2 separate regions of the Homo sapiens genome follow, and region 2 is linked to region 1. The links come from fine-mapping of genetic effects on gene expression. A gene starts in region 1. The other region holds a variant in brackets. All regions are shown on one strand. Distances are between the middles of the regions.

The links.
Region 2: its variant is fine-mapped to the expression of WDR88 in stomach (GTEx, PIP 0.95).

What each region holds. Positions count from the first base shown.
Region 1 is chr19:33,127,078-33,135,777 of GRCh38, reverse strand. WDR88 (WD repeat domain 88) reads right to left here and starts at 3,664. Exons shown (of 11, transcript NM_173479.4): 1 at 3,333-3,664. The coding sequence starts at 3,608. GPATCH1 (G-patch domain containing 1) reads right to left here. Exons shown (of 20, transcript NM_018025.3): 20 at 5,236-5,648. The coding sequence ends at 5,618. RefSeq lists enhancers at 771-820, 3,658-3,827, 8,296-8,465 and silencers at 901-1,020, 6,585-6,729.
Region 2 is chr19:33,148,152-33,156,851 of GRCh38, reverse strand. WDR88 (WD repeat domain 88) reads right to left here. Exons shown (of 11, transcript NM_173479.4): 5 at 7,942-8,080; 6 at 5,542-5,671; 7 at 310-497. Among named protein-coding and RNA genes, the nearest start is that of WDR88, 20 kb to the right of the region's middle. RefSeq lists a cis regulatory region at 5,485 and enhancers at 5,401-5,570, 8,653-8,700. The variant T/C (reference allele first, on the strand shown) is at 4,515.

The DNA of each region.
Region 1 (8,700 bases):
CCTCCTACATTGCTGGTAGGAACGTAAAGTAGTGCAGCCACTTTGAAAAACGGGCGGTTCGGCCAGGCGCAGTGGCTCACGCCTGTAATCCCAGCACTTTGGGAGGCCAAGGTGGGTGGATCACCTGAGGCCAGGAGTTCAAGACCAGCCTGGCCAACATGGTGAAACCCCGTCTCTACTAAAAGTACAAAAATTAGCCGGGCATGGTGGCACATGCCTGTAAGCCCAGCTACTGGGAGACTGAGACTGGAGAATCGCTTGAACCTGGGAGGCAGAGGCTGCAGTGAGCCAAGATCACGCCACTGCACTCCAGCCTGGGCAACAGAGCGAGACTCCATCTCAAAGAAAGAGAAAATGTGTCATGGCCATGCAACAGAATATTACTTGGTAATGAAAAGGGAAGGGAGCACTGCTACAGGCTACAACATGGATGAACCTTGAGGACGTTAGCTAAGGAAATGAAGCCAGTCACAAGAGACCACGTATGGCTTGATTCTATCGCTATAAAAGGTCTAGAATAGACAAATCTATGGACAGAAAGCAGAATTGCCTGGTGTCGGCAGGATGGGTATTGGGGAACTGGGGAGTACAGTACTCTGAATACCCTAGAAACCACTACAGCTTCTATGGTTAAATTATATGGTACGTGAATTATATCTCAGTAAAACTGGGGGGAAAAAAAGAGGACAGAGCAGGGAAGCCTGAAGATGTCACCCCCCCCACCCACCCACCCCAGCTCGCGCATGGCGACACGTCCCAGGTTGAGCTGCGGAAGTGTGGGGGTGGGGGAAATGTTGGAGGCAAGACCAGGGGTGTGGCCTGGAAGGCAGTGTCAGGGTGCTGGGCTGAGTTGGCAGGAGGACAGGGGTGAGGGGATGCGACGGTTCAGGGCGGCGGTGGCCTTCCGGTTGCAGGTGATGCGGGGCGGGGGGGGGGGTGTCGGGGACGTGCAGGTGGAGATGCAGGGGATGAGATGATACCCCGCCTCTAGGGGGCTCGGGGACACGAGGACACTGGAACGCGGGCTCCGTTGCCAGGGAGCGTGGAGAGCTGGGACCGGGCTTTTCTCCGGGGGAGTTCGCTAACCCCGTCGGGCCAGGCCGGGGCCGCGCGTGCAGGGTTGGCTCCCTACCCCAGGAGCGGCCCCAGTCCCCGGGACATGACCTGCGCGGCCCTCCCGCACCGCCCCCGCCTCTGGCGACCCCAGCCCCTGCCGCCCCTGCAGGGTTTGGGTTATCTCTCTCATTAGGAAAACCCAACTATCATTAAAAATTGAAATTAAATTGGCTGGGTGCAGTGGCTCACGCATGCAATTCCAGTGCTTTGGGAGGCCCAGGAGTGAGGATTGCTTGAGGCCAGGAGTTTAAGACCAGCCTGGGCAACATGGCGAGACTCCCCCTCTCTACAAAAAAAATCAAAATTAAAATTAATAATTTAAAAAATATATAATTTAATTTAAAAAATAGGAAAACAAAAAACCTAGAACTCCATCATGGAAAAACATTAGCAAGAGGGGGGAACCATTCCGCTACCCCCACCACAGGCTTTTCTGGGGCTCTCGTTTCAGGTTTTTTTCTGCACACAGTCCCTTGGGATCCACTAGGTAAAGGGGTCCCAGGGGCTGCAGAGAGAAGTCCCCAACACATGAGTACATTTCAGAGGTGCTGACAAAGCTCATGCAGAGGACAGAGCAAAAACAAAACGGTTCTTCTATGCGTAGCGTTCATTCACATATTCCACAAATAAACCTCAAGAGCCTCCTCCCCCATGGGGCCTGGACCTGATGCTGCAGCTCAGCAGCCACCTAGGAGCAAAGTCCCTAACCTCGAGGGGCCAGTTGCTGGCAGCCAGAGGACACCTTGAGGACGGAACGGGGATGTCAGACCATGGCATGAGGCACGGAGGAGACAGTGGCCCTGGCTACTTTAGACGGGCGGTCAGGGAGGGCCTCCCCAAGAGCGCAATACCGTGGGGGCAGGGAACCGCCAAGATCCCTGAGGCCAGACCTGCTTGTAGGTCAGCAAGACAGGGGGATGGGGGAGGAGAACATGGAGAGGTGCCAGATTTGAAATGGCCTGGAAGGCCACAGGCAGATCGCCAGACTTCATCTTAAACATGCTGGGAAGCCAGGCAGAGGTTTCGAGGAAATTATTAAAAACACACTCTGACATCTGCATGTGAGTGCAATAAATCAAGGCCAAGCATGAAACGCTACTTATTGAGAATGTTCTTTATTGGGTTTTTGTTTTGTTTTGTTTTTGAGATGGAGTGAGATGATCTCAGCTCACTGCAACCTCTGCCTCCCGGGTTCAAATGATCTTGCTGCCTCAGCCTCCTGAGTAGCTGGGATTACAGGCACGCACCACCATGCCTGGCTAATTTTTGCATTTTTAGTAGAGAAAGGGTTTCACCATGTTAGCCAGGCTGGTCTCGAACCCTTGACCTCAAGTGATCTGCTCATCTCGGCTTCCCAAAGTGCTGGGATTACAGACATGAGCCACTGCACCCAGCCAGTTTTTCTTTCTTTCTCCTTCTTTCTTTCTTTTTCTTTTTCTTTCTTTCTTTCTCTCTCTCTCTCTATATTTATTTATTTATTTATTTATTTATTTATTTATTTATTCTGGAGACAGTCTCGCTCTGTTGCCCAGGCTGGAGTGCAGTGGCACAATCATAGCTCACTGCAGCCTTAAACTCCTGGGTTCAAGGGATCCTCTTGCCTCAGCCTTTCAAGTGGCTGGGACCACAGGTGCGCCCCATCACACTGGGCTAAGTTTATTTCTTGTAGAGACGACCTCTCACTATGTTGCCCAGGCTGGTCTCAAACTCCTGGGCTCAAGTGATCCTCCCACCTGGGCCTCCCAAAGGGCTGGGATTACAGGTGTGAGCCACCTTGCCTGGCCCAATTCATTGTTGTTATTATTATTCTGAGTTTCCCGTTTCTTCTGACGCTAACTGTATCTCCTGGACGGGGAGAGCTGAGCCACCGACCCTTGGGCTGCAATTAGGAGCATCACTGTGGGTGGGCCTACCTACGGAGACTCCAAGGTCTAGATGGGGTCACATGGTGGGGCAGAGCCTCCTCCCAGCGAAGAGTCCTGGTTCCCCAGCAGGTGGCAGTGCGGGGAGCCCCCGCCGGCATCCCCAGCACGCCCTGCTCAGGTGGGTCTGACCTTTGCCCACAGATGTACCACAGATGGGGAAATGGGCCTAGGGCCTCGCTGGGGGTCCTGGTGAAGCCAGGTGGGTTTTCCATGGGTCCCCCGACAGCTCGAGCGCCTTCCTCCCGTGTGGGGAACAGGCCAGTGCCCCCTCACCCCAGCGGCGGTTCTGACCTTGGAGAGAGGGTCCTGGTCGCCCCAGATCAATTTCTCCGGCACCTGGTGCTTCTCAGGCAACAGATGCGGTGGTGGTTCCCTGTCCAAGGCCAGGGGGTCGAGGGTGGCCAGCAGGTGCGTGTGCGGGATCGACAGCTTGAAGCGGCCTAAGGCCCTCGCCATGGTCCCCCAGGACAGCTTGCCGGGACAATACTCGCTGGCGGGGGCGGAGGGTGGCGGCAACTTGCATTCCCTGTCATGGGCTGTCGGGGAGCACCGCGGCGGGGAGGCCATCTCGAAGCCCGGTCCGCCGGTGGCCGCCGACAAGCCTGGATGGGAACGGTGGCGCCGCGCGCCCGCGCCCGCGCCCGCACCAAGCCCTTCGGAGGCGCGCGCTACGCTGGGCCCGCGACTTCGCTGCCTCCTCGCCCGCTGGGTGAAAACTAGTGCCACCCCGCGCAGCACAGGTTACCTATAGAAAAATGGGCTTTGCAGCCGGGCGCGGTGGCTCACGCCTGTAATCCCGGCACTTTGGGAGGCCGAGGCGGGCGGATTACCTGAGGTCAGGAGTTGGAGACCAGCCTGGCCAACAGGTTTAGTGAAACCCCATCTTTACTTAAAAAAAATAATAACAAAAATTAGCCAGGCATGGGGGCGTGCGCCTGTAGTTCCAGCTACATGGGAGGCTGAGGCAGGGGAATGGCTTGAACCCAGGAGGTGGAGGTTGCAAAAAAAAGAAAAATGGGCTTTGCATTCTGGGAACCAGGCCGAGCCAGCAAAACCAGCACCCCAGCCTCCAGCCCTCCGCTGTGGTTTCCCTGGCTCCTGTCACAGGGCAATTTCTTCATGTCCTCTGCCTGGGTACAGCTCCTGGCCAACCCACTTCATGACAAAACAGAAAAGGTCAGTAAGTTATGGGGTAGCCCCTGCATGAAATAAGATGCAGTTATTAGGGGTGGGTTTACAACATTTATAATAGATGAGGGAAATATCTGTCACAACCCCAACAACAGTGACAGGGAATAAAATGCTACCACCAGTCAGATAACAGCCCCATAGCTAGAAAAGGACAGGGTGGAATTATTCAAAATATTGAAGAAGGGTGTCATCTTTGGATGATAAAACTAAAAGTGATTTTCTTCCTTCTTTTTTTTTTTTTTTTTTTTTGGTGGAGACAAGAGTCTGTCACCCAGGCTGGATTGCAGTAGCGCAATTTCGGCTCACTGCAACCTCCACCTCCAGGGTTCAAAGGATTCTCGTGCCTCAGCCTCCCACACAGCTGGGATTACAGGTGTATGCTCACCAGACCTGGCTAATTTTTTTGTATTTTTAGTAGAGACAAGGTTTCGCCATGTTGGCCAGGCTGTTTTTGAACTCCTGGCCTCAAGTGATCCGCTGGCCTCGGCCTCCCAAAGTGCTGGGATTACAAGCATGGGCCACCGCACCCGGCCTCTTCCTTCTTTCTGCTTTTAAAATTGTTGTGATCTATGATGCTACTTTCATAATGTAAAATACAAATGCTCAATACTTTATTTTTTGTGGAGACAGGGGTCTCTATGTGGCCCAGGCTGGTCTGGAATTCCTGGGCTCAAGCAATCCTCCCGCCTCGGCCTCCCAAAGCTCTGGGATTACAGGCATTAGCCATCACACCTGGTCTGCACTTTATTTTTCAAAAAGGTCTCCTTGGTACACATGAGGTGGCCTCAGAGCAGGGAGCTGCAGCCGTGTAACCCAGGCTGTGGGTGCACATTCTCCTGCCTGGTTTCCCTGCCTGTCTCAGACACTTTAGTGACATCTACCCTGAGAGGCTGAGGCCCCCTGCCAGGCCCTGGCTCTGCCCTCCCATGGGGCTTCCTGGGCACCAACAGTAACCCAGCCACCCAGAGAGGGAAGAGCTTCACTCCCAAAAAACGGCAGGAGGGGCCGCAACCGCCCCTTCTCACACGCTTGTCCTTCAGTGAGTCCAGGCTGTCTTCATCACAAAACCAGAGAGAAGCCTTCACTTTTAACTTCTTTTTTAACGTCCCAGGAAATTTTTTAAAAATCAAGAAGAAAATAGAAAAATTCCACTTTAATTAAACTGTTCAGTCTGGATTTTTTTCCCCCGATACTAACTGAAATTAAAAATAGAAATCAATTTCTGCGACCTTTCAAGGCAGTCTTTGAAATGTCAAGGTTTTAAAAATTATTTTACAGCAGGAATTTACATATAAATACACTCTGTACAATGCGTTAACTGAACAATCACTGGGCTTCCATCATGGAGGAGAAATGATTCTAGGACGAGCCAGGGCAGCATTCAATTACTGCCTTCTTAGTGGAAGACTTTTCAGCCTGGAAAAGAAAACAGAAAAGAGAGAAATGGAAAGTTAGCTAAAGTGAAAAACCAAACAGCTCCGTGGAGGCTGAGAATGCCAGGCCTCCCCATATCACAGCAGCATGTCTGCACCTACAAAATGCACTCACAATAACCCACAATGAAGTACTGCCTAATCTGTGCTTTTTTTTTTTTTTCCCCCGAGATGGAGTCTCACTTTTGTCGCCCAGGCTGGAGCGCAGTGGTGCGATCTCAGCTCACTGCAACCTCCGCCTCCCAGGTTTAAGCAAGTCTCCTGCCTCAGCCTCCAGAGTAGCTGGGATTACAGGCACATGCCACCATACCCAGCTAATTTTTGTATTTTTAGTACAGATGGGGTTTCACCATGTTGGCCAGGCTTGTTTCGAACTCCTGACTGTGATCTGCCCGCCTCGGCCTCCCAAAGTGCTGGGATTACAGGCATGAGCCACCGTACCCGGCCAATCTGTGTTCTTAAAATGCTTCTTCTATTACCCTGAAAACACACAGAGACTCACTCACCCACACCTCGTATTAAGACCACTTATAAAAGCAACTTTTTTCCCTAGTCTTATTTAGCCTTGAGAATACAAGCAATTTTTAATCTCAGTTTCACTCACCTACCGCATCCGTTGCATGACCCTTGGGAAGGAACTAAAATACATTCACTCCAGGGCCCAAAGCATCCAAGTTGTCTTTTTTTTTTTTTTAATTTTTTTATAGAGACAGGGTCTCCCTATATTACCCGAGCTGGTCTTGAACTCCTGGGCTCAAGCGATCCTCCCATCTTGACCTCCCAAGGTATTGGGATTACAGGCATGAGCCACCATGCCCAGCCCCCAAGTTGTCAGTCTTAAATCTGAATTTCTTTTCTTTTTTTTTTTTTGAGACAGAGTCTCTGTCACCCAGGCTGGAGTACAGTGGCGCGATCTCGGTTCACTGCAACCTCCACCTCCCAGGTTCAAGCGATTCTCCTGCCTCCACCTCCTGAGTAGCTGGGACTACAGGCACGTGCCACCACGCCTGGCTAGTTTTTTTAGTAGAGATGGGGTTTGGGGTTTCATTGTGTTAACCAGGATAGTCTCGATTTCCTGACCTCATGATCCGCCTGCCTCGGCCTCCCAGAGTGCTGGGATTACAGACGTGAGATACCGCACCTGGCCTAAATCTGAATTTCATACATATAGGAATGTTCGTGGCAGTTCTATTTGAAACAGAGCTGGGTCACACTGGCTGAAAATCCCTGCTCCACAGACTCAAAGTAAAAAACCCAGTATCCACACAACAGAAGAGATAAACATACCGTGGTGTGCTCACAAGAAGGAATCTTCCACAGCAATGACTACAAGCCCCTCACTGCTGCCTACCATCATCTGAAGGAATCTCAGAAGCCAGACACTCAAAGAATTCACACAACACCCTTCTTCCCAATAAAGATAAAACTGGCAAGAGCAGGCCTGCGCAGCGGCTCACGCCTGAGGCTGAGGCAGGAGGATCACTTGAGGCCAGGAGTTCGAGACCAGTTTGGGCAACATAGGAGATCCCATCTCTACAAAAAAGATTTTTTTAGGCCGGGTGTGGTGGCTCACGCCTGTAATCCCGGCACTTTGGGAGGCCAAGGCAGGCGGATCACCAGGTCAGGAGATTGAGACCATCCTGGCTAACACGGTGAAACCCCGTCTCTACTAAATATACAAAAAATTAGCTGGACGTGGTGGCGGGTACCTGTAGTCCCAGCTACTCAGGAGGCTGAGGCAGGAGAATGGCGTGAACCCAGGAGGTGGAGCTTGCAGTGAGCCAAGATCGCGCCACTGCACTCCAGCTTGGGTGACAGAGCAAGACTCTGTCTCAAAAAAAATGATTTTTTAAAAAAATTAGCTGGGTGTGGTGGTGCACACTTACAGTCCCAGCTACTCTGAAGGCTGAGGTGGGAGGATCCCTTGAGCCGGAGAGGCAGAGTTTACAGTGAGCTGTGATCAGGCCACTGCACTCCAGCCTGGGTCACAGAGCGAGACTCTGTCTCAAAAAATAAAATAAAATTCATACCCTATAAATATATGCTATATAAAATTATATTACTTATATTTAAAATGTGCACAAAAATCTGTATATAGGCCAGGCATGGTGGTTCACACCTGTAATCCTGGCACTCAGAGGCCAAGGTGGGTGTATCACCTGAGGTCAGGAGTTTGAGACCAGCCTGGCCAACATGACGAAACACTGTCTCTACTAAAAAAATACAAAATACAAAAATTAGCTGGGTGTGGGGGCGGGTGCCTGTAATCCCAGTTGCTTGGGAGGCTGAGGTAGGAGAACTGCTTGAACCCGGGAGGCAGAGGTTGCACTGAGCCAAGATCGCACCACTGCACTCCAGCCTGGGTGACAGAACGAGACTCGTCTAAAAAAGAAACAAACAATGTGTATGTGCATCCATGTACGTGAGTGTGTATGTGTGTGTGTGTGGTTGCACAAAAAAGGTCTTAAAGGTTACATATGAAACTGATGGCAGAAGTTACTGTGGAGAAAGTAGAGGTTTGGAGAACTAGTCAGGGCTCCTTTAAGCATTGGCTGTAAGGTCTGAATTTTCTTTTCTTTTTTTTTTTTTTTTTATTGAGACAAGAGTCTCGCTCTGTCGCCCAGGCTGGAGGGCAGTGGCACAATCTCGGCTCACTGCAAGCTCCGCCTCCCAGGTTGACGCCATTCTCCTGCCTCAGCCTCCCCAGCAGCTGGAACTACAGGCACACGCTCCACGCCCAGCTAATTTTTGTATTTTTAGTAGAGACGGGGTTTCTCTGTGTTAGCCAGGATGGTCTCGAGCTCCTGACCTTGTGATCCACCCGCCTCGGCCTCCCAAAGTGCTGGGATTACAGGCATGAGCCACCGCGCCTGGCCTGAATTTTCATAATGATAATATATTCACATATCACTTACATAATTAGATATTCAAACTTTTTAAAAAGCCTAGTTAATACACACATTTTTTTTTTTCTTTTAGGGAGAGGGTCTTGCTCTATCACCCAGGCTGGAGTGTAGTGGTACGATAGTGGCTCA
Region 2 (8,700 bases), 21 kb before region 1:
AAGGGTTGGGTTCCCAACAGCATTGACTCTCTTGTCCCATCCATGCCTGAAGTCAGACGTGCTCTTGGACTTTTCCATTACAGGATTAATCAATTTCTTTGGTTGCATACGCCACATTGAGCTGAGTTTCTACCACTGTAAACTGGTACCTGTGGTCTTCCCTCTTGGGTTTTTTGTTCTCGTGGGGAAGAATCCGCCCTCCCTGTCAGCATCATTGGAAATTGCCTCTCTGTCCATTTGAACGGAACATGGAGAACTCTGCCCAGCACTCCCACAGGAATGGAGGCCTTCTGCATGTTAATTACTCACTGTCTCTGGCAAAGTGACAGGAACTGACAGAACCTTCATGGCCCTGCATCAGAGTCACACAGGCTCCACAGTTTCGAAACTCCCCTGTGTGGACGTTCCATATTTTTAAGTTTTTATCCCAGGAGCTTGTACACAGGAAATGGCCACTGAAGGTAAAACAGCAGTTTGAGATTGCATTGGAATGTGCCCTGAAACACAGATGGTGGGGTGCACACATTAGCGCTTTGCTCCTGGAGGACCTGAAGACATACCTAAAGCCGGGGGTATTTTCTCCTGTGAGCTCATGGTCGGGCTGCACATGCTAGCACTTCGCCCCAAGAGGACCTGAAGACATACCTAAGTGGGGGTCAGCATCTCCTGTGAGCTCATGTTCATCATGCCTTTGATCACTGCCTACCATGGTCCAGATGTGAATTGCTCAGACTGTCACGCTGTTCCAGCATTTCTCGACTGCACCAATTTTTAGAAAAATAATAATAGAGACAGTGTTTCGCTATGTTACCCAGGCTGCTCTCAAACTCCTAGGCTCTAGTGGTCCACCTGCCTTGGCCTCCCAAAGTAGTGCTGGGATTACAGGCGTGAGCCACGGCACTGGGCCAACCACACCAAGGTGGACATTTTGAGCTGGGTCACTCAGAGTTGTGGGGGCCGTCCTGTGTTCTGTAGGAGGTGGAGCAGCATCCCTGGCCTCTCCTGGCTAGATGCCAGGAACCCCCACACCCAGTTGTGACAACAAAACATGAGTCCAGACATTGTCAAATGTCCACTGGGGCACAAATTGCCCTCATTTGGGAAGATTCTGCAGTATTCCCTTGGCGCTGGAGGGAAAAGCAGCTGGTGTCAGGAGTGATTGATTGACAGACAGCCTTTGGGGCTTGGTGCTGGGTGGCGCTTACACAGAGGCTCTCTCCTGCTCCCCATCTTTCCCCCAACAATGTCAGGCGTGGTCTCCCCCTGTTCCACCCCTCTCTTACTTACTCCTCTGCTTCTCCACCCCAACTATTCACTCTCCCTTTTTCTCACTCCTATCCTCATTTGTCTTCAGTGCTATTCAAGTATATTTCAGTGTTGTATATTTAATTAATAAAATTGTGGGTTATTTGGCTGGGTGCAGTGGCTCATGCCTATAATCCCAGCACTTTGGGAGGCCTAGGTGGAAGGATTGCTTGAGCCCAGGATTTTGACACCAGCCTGGGCAACATAGCAAGACCCCATCTCTACAAAAAATATAAAAATTAGCTGGGCATGGTGGCACATGCCTGTAGTCCCAGCTACTCTGGAGGCTGAGGCAGGAGAATCACTTGAACCCAGGAGGTGGAGGTTGCAGTGAGCCAAGATTGTGCCATTGCACTCCAGCCTGGGCAACAGTGCAAGACTCTATCTCAGAAAAAAAATGAAGTTATTCATTCCAATTTTTAAGCATCTTCTTTTTCAGAAAAATAATAATAATAAAAAGCCTGTCTGTATTTTGCCACTTTTTGTTTGTAACCCTCAATGTCTTTCTCCTGTGATTCTCACCTCCTCTTGTAAGCAGAGTTTTCTCTGAGTAGCCTGGATCATAAAATCAATCATTTGACCTGAAGAAAAGGTTGAGCAAAACAATTTTCTAGAGCTCAGATCAGAGTTTTGGAACCCATTTTGGTTCTTTGAAAGGCACAAACTGAGCAACGCCAAAGGAGAAGAAATGTCAACTTCGCAGGGCCATCCGGGATAAACCTCACCAATTCCCAGTGCCTGGTGAGCTAAGAACCATGCTGGCATATCATGGAGGTTTGACTGCAAGCTCTCCCAGCAGCCAGACACTGTCATTGAGGTTTAAACCAGAGGTATACCCAGAGGATTATAAATCATTCTTCTATAAATACACATGCACACGTATGTTTATTGCAGCATTATTCACAATAGCAAAGACTTCGTGTCAACCCAAATGCCCATCAATGATAGACCGGATAAAGAAAATGTGGTACATATACACCATGGAATACTATGCAGCCATGAGAAAGAATGAGATCATGTCCTTTGCAGGGACATCATCCTCAGCAAACTAACACAGGAACAGAAGACCAAACACCACACGTTCTCATTCATAAGTGGGAGTTGAACAGTGAGAACACATAGACACAGGGAGGGGAACATCACACACTGAGGCCTGTCAGGGGGTGGGAGGCAAGTGGAGGGAGAGCATTAGGGCAAATACCTAACACATGCGGGGCTTAAAACCTAGATGACGTGTTGATAGATGCAGCAAACCACCGTGGCACATGTGTACCTATGTAACAAACCTGCACATTCTGCACATGTGTCCTGGAACTTAAAGTAAAAAAAAAGACATAGCAATTTCTAAATAAATAAATACATAAATAAATAAATAAATAAACCAGAGGTATCTCTATGGACTCTCATTTCACATAAATCCCACTTCTCGTAGAAGGCCATTTCACCTGTACAGAAGTTTGGGGAAAATGGCTATGCTGCACGTACAGTTCTGGACAAGATGGAGTCAACTTTAAAAGTAATTTTTTTAAATGGCTGAAATTTTACCAAATTTGGCAAAATATATAAACCTACAGATTCAAGAATCTGAGTAAAACCCAACAGGATAAATCCAAAGAAATCTACACCCAGACACATAATTACACTTCAGAAAACTAAGGACAACAAAAATATCTTCAGAGCAGCAAGAGAGAAATGACTTTTTACCTATAGGAGAAAAACAATATGAATGACAGTGTAAATGAAAACCACAGTGTGGCCAGGCACTGTGGCTCATGCCTGTAATCCCAGCACTTTGGGAGGCCGAGGTGGGTGGATCACAAGGTCAGGAGTTTGAGACCAGCCTGGCCAATGTGGTGAAACCCTGTCTCTACTAAAAATACAAAAATTAGTTGGGCATGGTGGCGGGCGCCTGTAGTCCCACCTACTCGGGAGGCTGAGGCAGGAGAATTGCTTGAACCCGGGAGGCGGAGGTTGCAGCGAGCCGAGATTGCACCCTGCAAATGATATAGCTGATCTTGCTAGAGGATTTAAAAAATTCATAATGTCGGTCGGGCTATATCATTTTCAGTTCTCAGTGCAAAATTAATAAGCAAGATCCCCACTCCTGAAAAAGCTAAGCACAGTATTACCATATGATCCAACAATTCCACTCCTGGGTATACAGAGTAAAGAATTAAAAACAGGCCAGGTGCAGTGGCTCACACCTGTCATCCCAGAACTTTGGGAGGCCAAAGTGAGAGGATCACTTGAGCTCAGAAGTTCAGGACTAGCTTGGGAGACATAATGAGACCCCGTTTCTGCAAAAAAAAAAAAAAAACAAACTTAAAAATTAGCCAGGCATGGTGGTGTGCACCTGTAGTCTCAGCTACTCAGGAAGTTGAGGCAAGAGGATCACTTGAGCCTAGGAATCCGAGGCTCCAGTGAGCTATGATCACGTCACTGCACTCCAGCCTGGGCAACAGAGCAAGACTCTGTCTCGAAATCAAATAAAATAAAAAGAATTGAAAGCAGGAACTCAAAGTTACATGTACATGTGTTCATAGCAGCATTATTCCCAATAACTAAAAGGTAGAAACAGCCTAAGAGGTCATCAACAGATGAACAGATAAACAAAATGTGGTATGTACACCTATAATGCAGTACTATTCAGTCATCAAAAGGAATGAAGTTCTTAATCCCAGCACTGTGGGAGGCCGAGGTGGGTGGATGACAAGGTCAGGAGTTTGAGACCAGCCTGGCCAACATGATGAAACCCCGTCTCTACTAATAATACAGAAATTAGCCAGGTGTGGTGGTGGGCGCCTGTAATCCCAGCTACTCAGGAGGCTGAAGCAGGAGAATCACTTGAACCCAGGAGGCAGAGGTTGCAGTGAGCCAAGATGGCACCACTGCACTCCAGCCTGGGGGACATAGCGAGACTAAGTCTCAAAGGAAAAAAAAGGAATGAAGTTCTGATGTTCTGATGCAGGCTACAACACAGATGAACCTTGAGGACATTATTTTAAGTGAAATAACCTAATCACAAGAGGACAAATAATGTATGACTCTACTTATATGAAATATCTAGAATAGGCAGATTCATAGAGACAGAAAGTAGAATAAACATTACCCAGGGCTGGGGGCATGGGGAATGGGGAGTTATTGCTTAACGGGTAAGAGCTTCTGTCTGAGATGATGAAATCATTTTGGAAATAAATAGTGGTGATGGT[T/C]GCACAACACTGTGAATGTAATGAATGGCAGAGAATTGCACACTTAAAAATGGTTAAAATATCATGTTTTATGTTGTGTGCGTGTATATATATATATATATATTTTGAGACAGAGTCTCACTCTGTCACCTAGGCTGGAGTGCAGTGGCACAATCTTGGCTCACTGCAACCTCCACCTCCCGGATTCAAGCTATTCTCCTTCCTCAGCCTCCTGAATAGCTGGGATTACAGGTGCCCGCCACCACGCCCAGCTAAGTTTTGTATTTTTACTAGAGGTGGGGTTTCACTATGTTGACCAGGCTGGTCTCGAACTCCTGACCTCAGGTGATCCGCCCCACTCGGCCTCCCAAAGTGCTGGGATTACAGGCATGAGCCACCGAGCCCAGCCCCAAAATTTTTTTAAATGATAATGTAATATCTCCAAAACGACTGAATTCACTTTATTTATTTATTTTTTTTAGACAGGGTCTTACTTCATTGTCCAGGCTGGGGTGCAGTGGTGCAATCATAGCTCACAGCAGCCTCAAACTCCTAGGCTCAAGCAATCCTCCAGCCTCAGCCTCCTGAGTAGCTGGGACTACAGGTGTGTGACACCACACCCAGCTAATTTTTAAATTTTTTGTAGAGATGGGGTCTTGTGACATTGCCCAGGCTGGTGTTGAACTCCTGGCCTGAAGTGATCCTCCCACTTTGGCCTCCCAAAGCTCTGGGATTATAGCCATGAGCCACACGCCCAGCCAGACCTTCCCATTTTACAGGAGATGCTGGAACTTCACCTTTTGTGGACTTCTCTGCACAATGATTTCCACTAGTGGCTCACATTGAAACAAATGCATCTGAGGCCCAGCCCAGCCCACAGGCCACAGCTGATGGCTCCCTCCTGCCTGCCTGTCCCCAGCCTCCTCAGAGCACCTATGACCAAGCTACAGACGTGTCCACATGGATGCTGGCTTATGTGGAATTCAGGAAGTCATGAATGGGGACGCCCCACCCAAACTCCCTTCTGGCCTCCTGGGGTCCAACTCACTTAGTGATGGTGAGCAGCGTGGCCTGGGATGTAACATCCCAGATCTTGATGCACCTGTCCAATGAGACAGAAGCCACCCTCTGGCTGTCGGGGTCAAAGCAGCATGACGTGATGGACCTTGTGTGATGATCTGCAGAACACGGAGGAAAGGGACTTGAGACCACGCCTTCCACCTGCTGGGCTGGAGGACTCCCACGACTTCCCCAGCCAGTGACGATTACAAAACACAATTCCAGTTTTCATCAGGAGCTACACACCTGCACAAACATTCCTGAGTGACTACTATGTCCCAGGCTTTGAACCGGGAGCACAGCAGGTTCCCTGCCCCCGCAGAGCTGCCAGTCTGATGGAGGAGACACCCCGGACCAGGCAACGACCTGCCACATGCCACAGATCATGAGATGAGTGCACGGGCCACCAAGGCCCAGACAACATAAGCCTGGCCACCCTGAGGGGTCCAGGAAGGGCCCGAAAAGCCAGCAAGGGAAGCAGAAATGGAAGAGCACTCCAGGAAGAAGGAACAGTGCTTGCAAAGGCCTGGGCCGGATCATGGAGCAGTGTGGGGCAAAGCTGGAGTCTGAAGCATGGTGGGGTCAGAGTGTCAAGTGGGCTCTTAGGGGCTATTAGGGAAGCTGTGGGGCAGTGCACATGGCATAGTGCCACATCGATAAAAAGAAACACAAAGCACATATGAGAAGCAGTGTTGTGTGTGCAAACACTTGTACGCACAGGCATACACACAGGGTTCAGGAAGACTGCCCAGCAATGTATGGTTCATAACAGGTGCCTCTGGGGAGGAGACAGGACAGACACAGCAGCCTTTTGCTTTTTTATTTACATAATGAATGATTTTTTTATTTTTGAGACAGGGCCTCATTCTGTCACCTGGGCTGGAGCGCAGAGGCGCGATTTCGGCTCACTGCAACCTCCACCTCCTGGGTTCCAGCAATTCTGCCTCAGCCTCCCGAGTAGCTGGGATTACAGGTGCCCGCCACCACGCCCGGCTAATTTTTGTATTTTTAGTAGAGACAGGGTTTCACCATGTTGGCCAGGCTGGTCTTGAACTTTTGAGCTCAGGTGATCCACCAGCCTCGGCCTCCCAAAGTGCTGGGATTACAGGCATGAGCCACCACGCCCAGCCCATAATGAATGTCTTTACAATGATTACACATTTTTTTAACTTTAATTTTAAGATAATTGTAAACTCCCATGGAGGTGTAAGGAATAACAGAGAAATCACCCATGTCCTTCACCCAGCAGCCCCCATGGGAACATGTGGTATCATCATCACACAGTGTCCCAACCAGGAAACTGTCATACAACAATTACTAAGTCCTATATTTTAAAAATAGGCTGGGCACAGTGGCTCATGCCCGTAATCCCAGCACTTTGGGAGACCAAGGCGGGCAGATCACCTGAGGTCAGGAGCTCGAGACCAGCCTGCCCAACATGGTGAAACCCCATCTCTACTAAAAATACAAAAATTAGCTGGGCGTGGTGGTGGGTGCCTGTAATCCCAGCTACTCAGAAGGCTGAGGCAAGGAGAATTGCTTGAACCCAGGAAGTGGAGGTTGAGGTGACCCGAGATCGCACCACTACACTCCAGCCTAGGAGACAGAGCAAGACTCCATCTCAAAAAAGAAAAAAAAAAAAGATACAGGTAGGCCGGGTGAGGGGGCTTCTCCTATAATCCCTCACTTTGGGAGGCTGAGGCAGGAGGATCCCTCGAGGCCAGGAGTTTGACATCAGCCTGGGCAACATAGCAAGACTCTGTTAATGTTAACTCTGTTAATGTTAATGTTAAGAAGCCTGAGCCTCCCCTCAATAAAAGATTAGGCTGTCAATGACCACATGAGGTTGGAGCCGAACATTGTGTCCTTTGTTAAAAGCACAAGACTGAATGAATGGAAAAGCATTAACTGAAGAGGATCAGTTTTGGTGTGTTTTTTTGTTTGTTTGTTTGTTTTTTGTTTGTTTGTTTGTTTTTTTGAGATGGAGTCTCACTCTGTCTGCCAGGCTGGAGTCCAGTGGCTCAATCTCAGCTCAATACAATCTCCACCTCCGGGTTCAAGTGATTCTCCCGTTTCAGCCTCTCAAGCAGCTGGGACTACAGGTGCATGCCATCACACCTGGCTAATTTTTGTATTGTTTTTGGTAGTGACAGGGTTTCACCCTGTTGCCCAGGCTGGTCTCAAACTCCTGGGCTCAAGCAACCTCCCAAAGTGCTGGGATTACAGATGCAATCCCAGCCACCGCACCTAGCCTAGTGTCCCAGCTTTAATGACGTGCTTCATACCATTACAGTTTCACCAAATAAAGCAATGGAAGGTCACCGTCAGTCAGTGACAAGTGGCTATTCCTATGGCAGACTGAAGATACAGGGAGCCCGCACACCCTCACCTTTGATGACGGAAACGGTGGTGATGTTCTCGGCGTCCATTATGCAGATTCCATGATCCACGTCGAAGCCTGAGACCACGTATTTACCATCAGGAGAAAACTTACAGGAGACGATGAAGGTATCATACCTGACCTTCCACTGAAATGAGCCAGCAATCAAAAGGTTGTTTTAAGCCAGGTGTGGTGTGTTACACCTGTAAACCCAGTGCTTTGGGAGGCCAAGGCTGGAGGATCGCTTGAGACCAGGAGCCTGAGACTAGCCTGGGAAACATGCAAGATCTCCATCTCTACAAAAGTAAAACATGAGCCAGGTGTGGCGGTGCTCGCCTGTAGTCCCAGCTACTTATGAGGCTGTGGCGGGAGGATCATCTGAGCCCAGGAGTTTGAGGCTGCAGTGAGCTACGATGGCGCCACTGTGTTCCAGCCTGGGTGACAGAGCTTGCAAGACCCTGTCTCTAAAAATCATCATCATCGTCATCATAAAATAAAAACTTGGCTTATCTTGTCTTTCTAAAAATGTTTACAATGAATACAAACTGACCTTTGCACTAACAAGAAAGGTTGTTTTTTAAGGAAAGGAAGGAGGAAGGGACAGAAAAGGCCTGCAGGAGCTGAGAGGGAGGGACGGCAGGGGTGAGGCAGGAGACCCCGAGGAGGCCCCTGAGCAGAGCTGAGGGTGCCTGGAAGGGGTGCAGGGCCGAGTGGGAGTCTTGAGCCTGTGGGATGGACGGAGAGTGACCCCCTCCAAGATATAAAGAG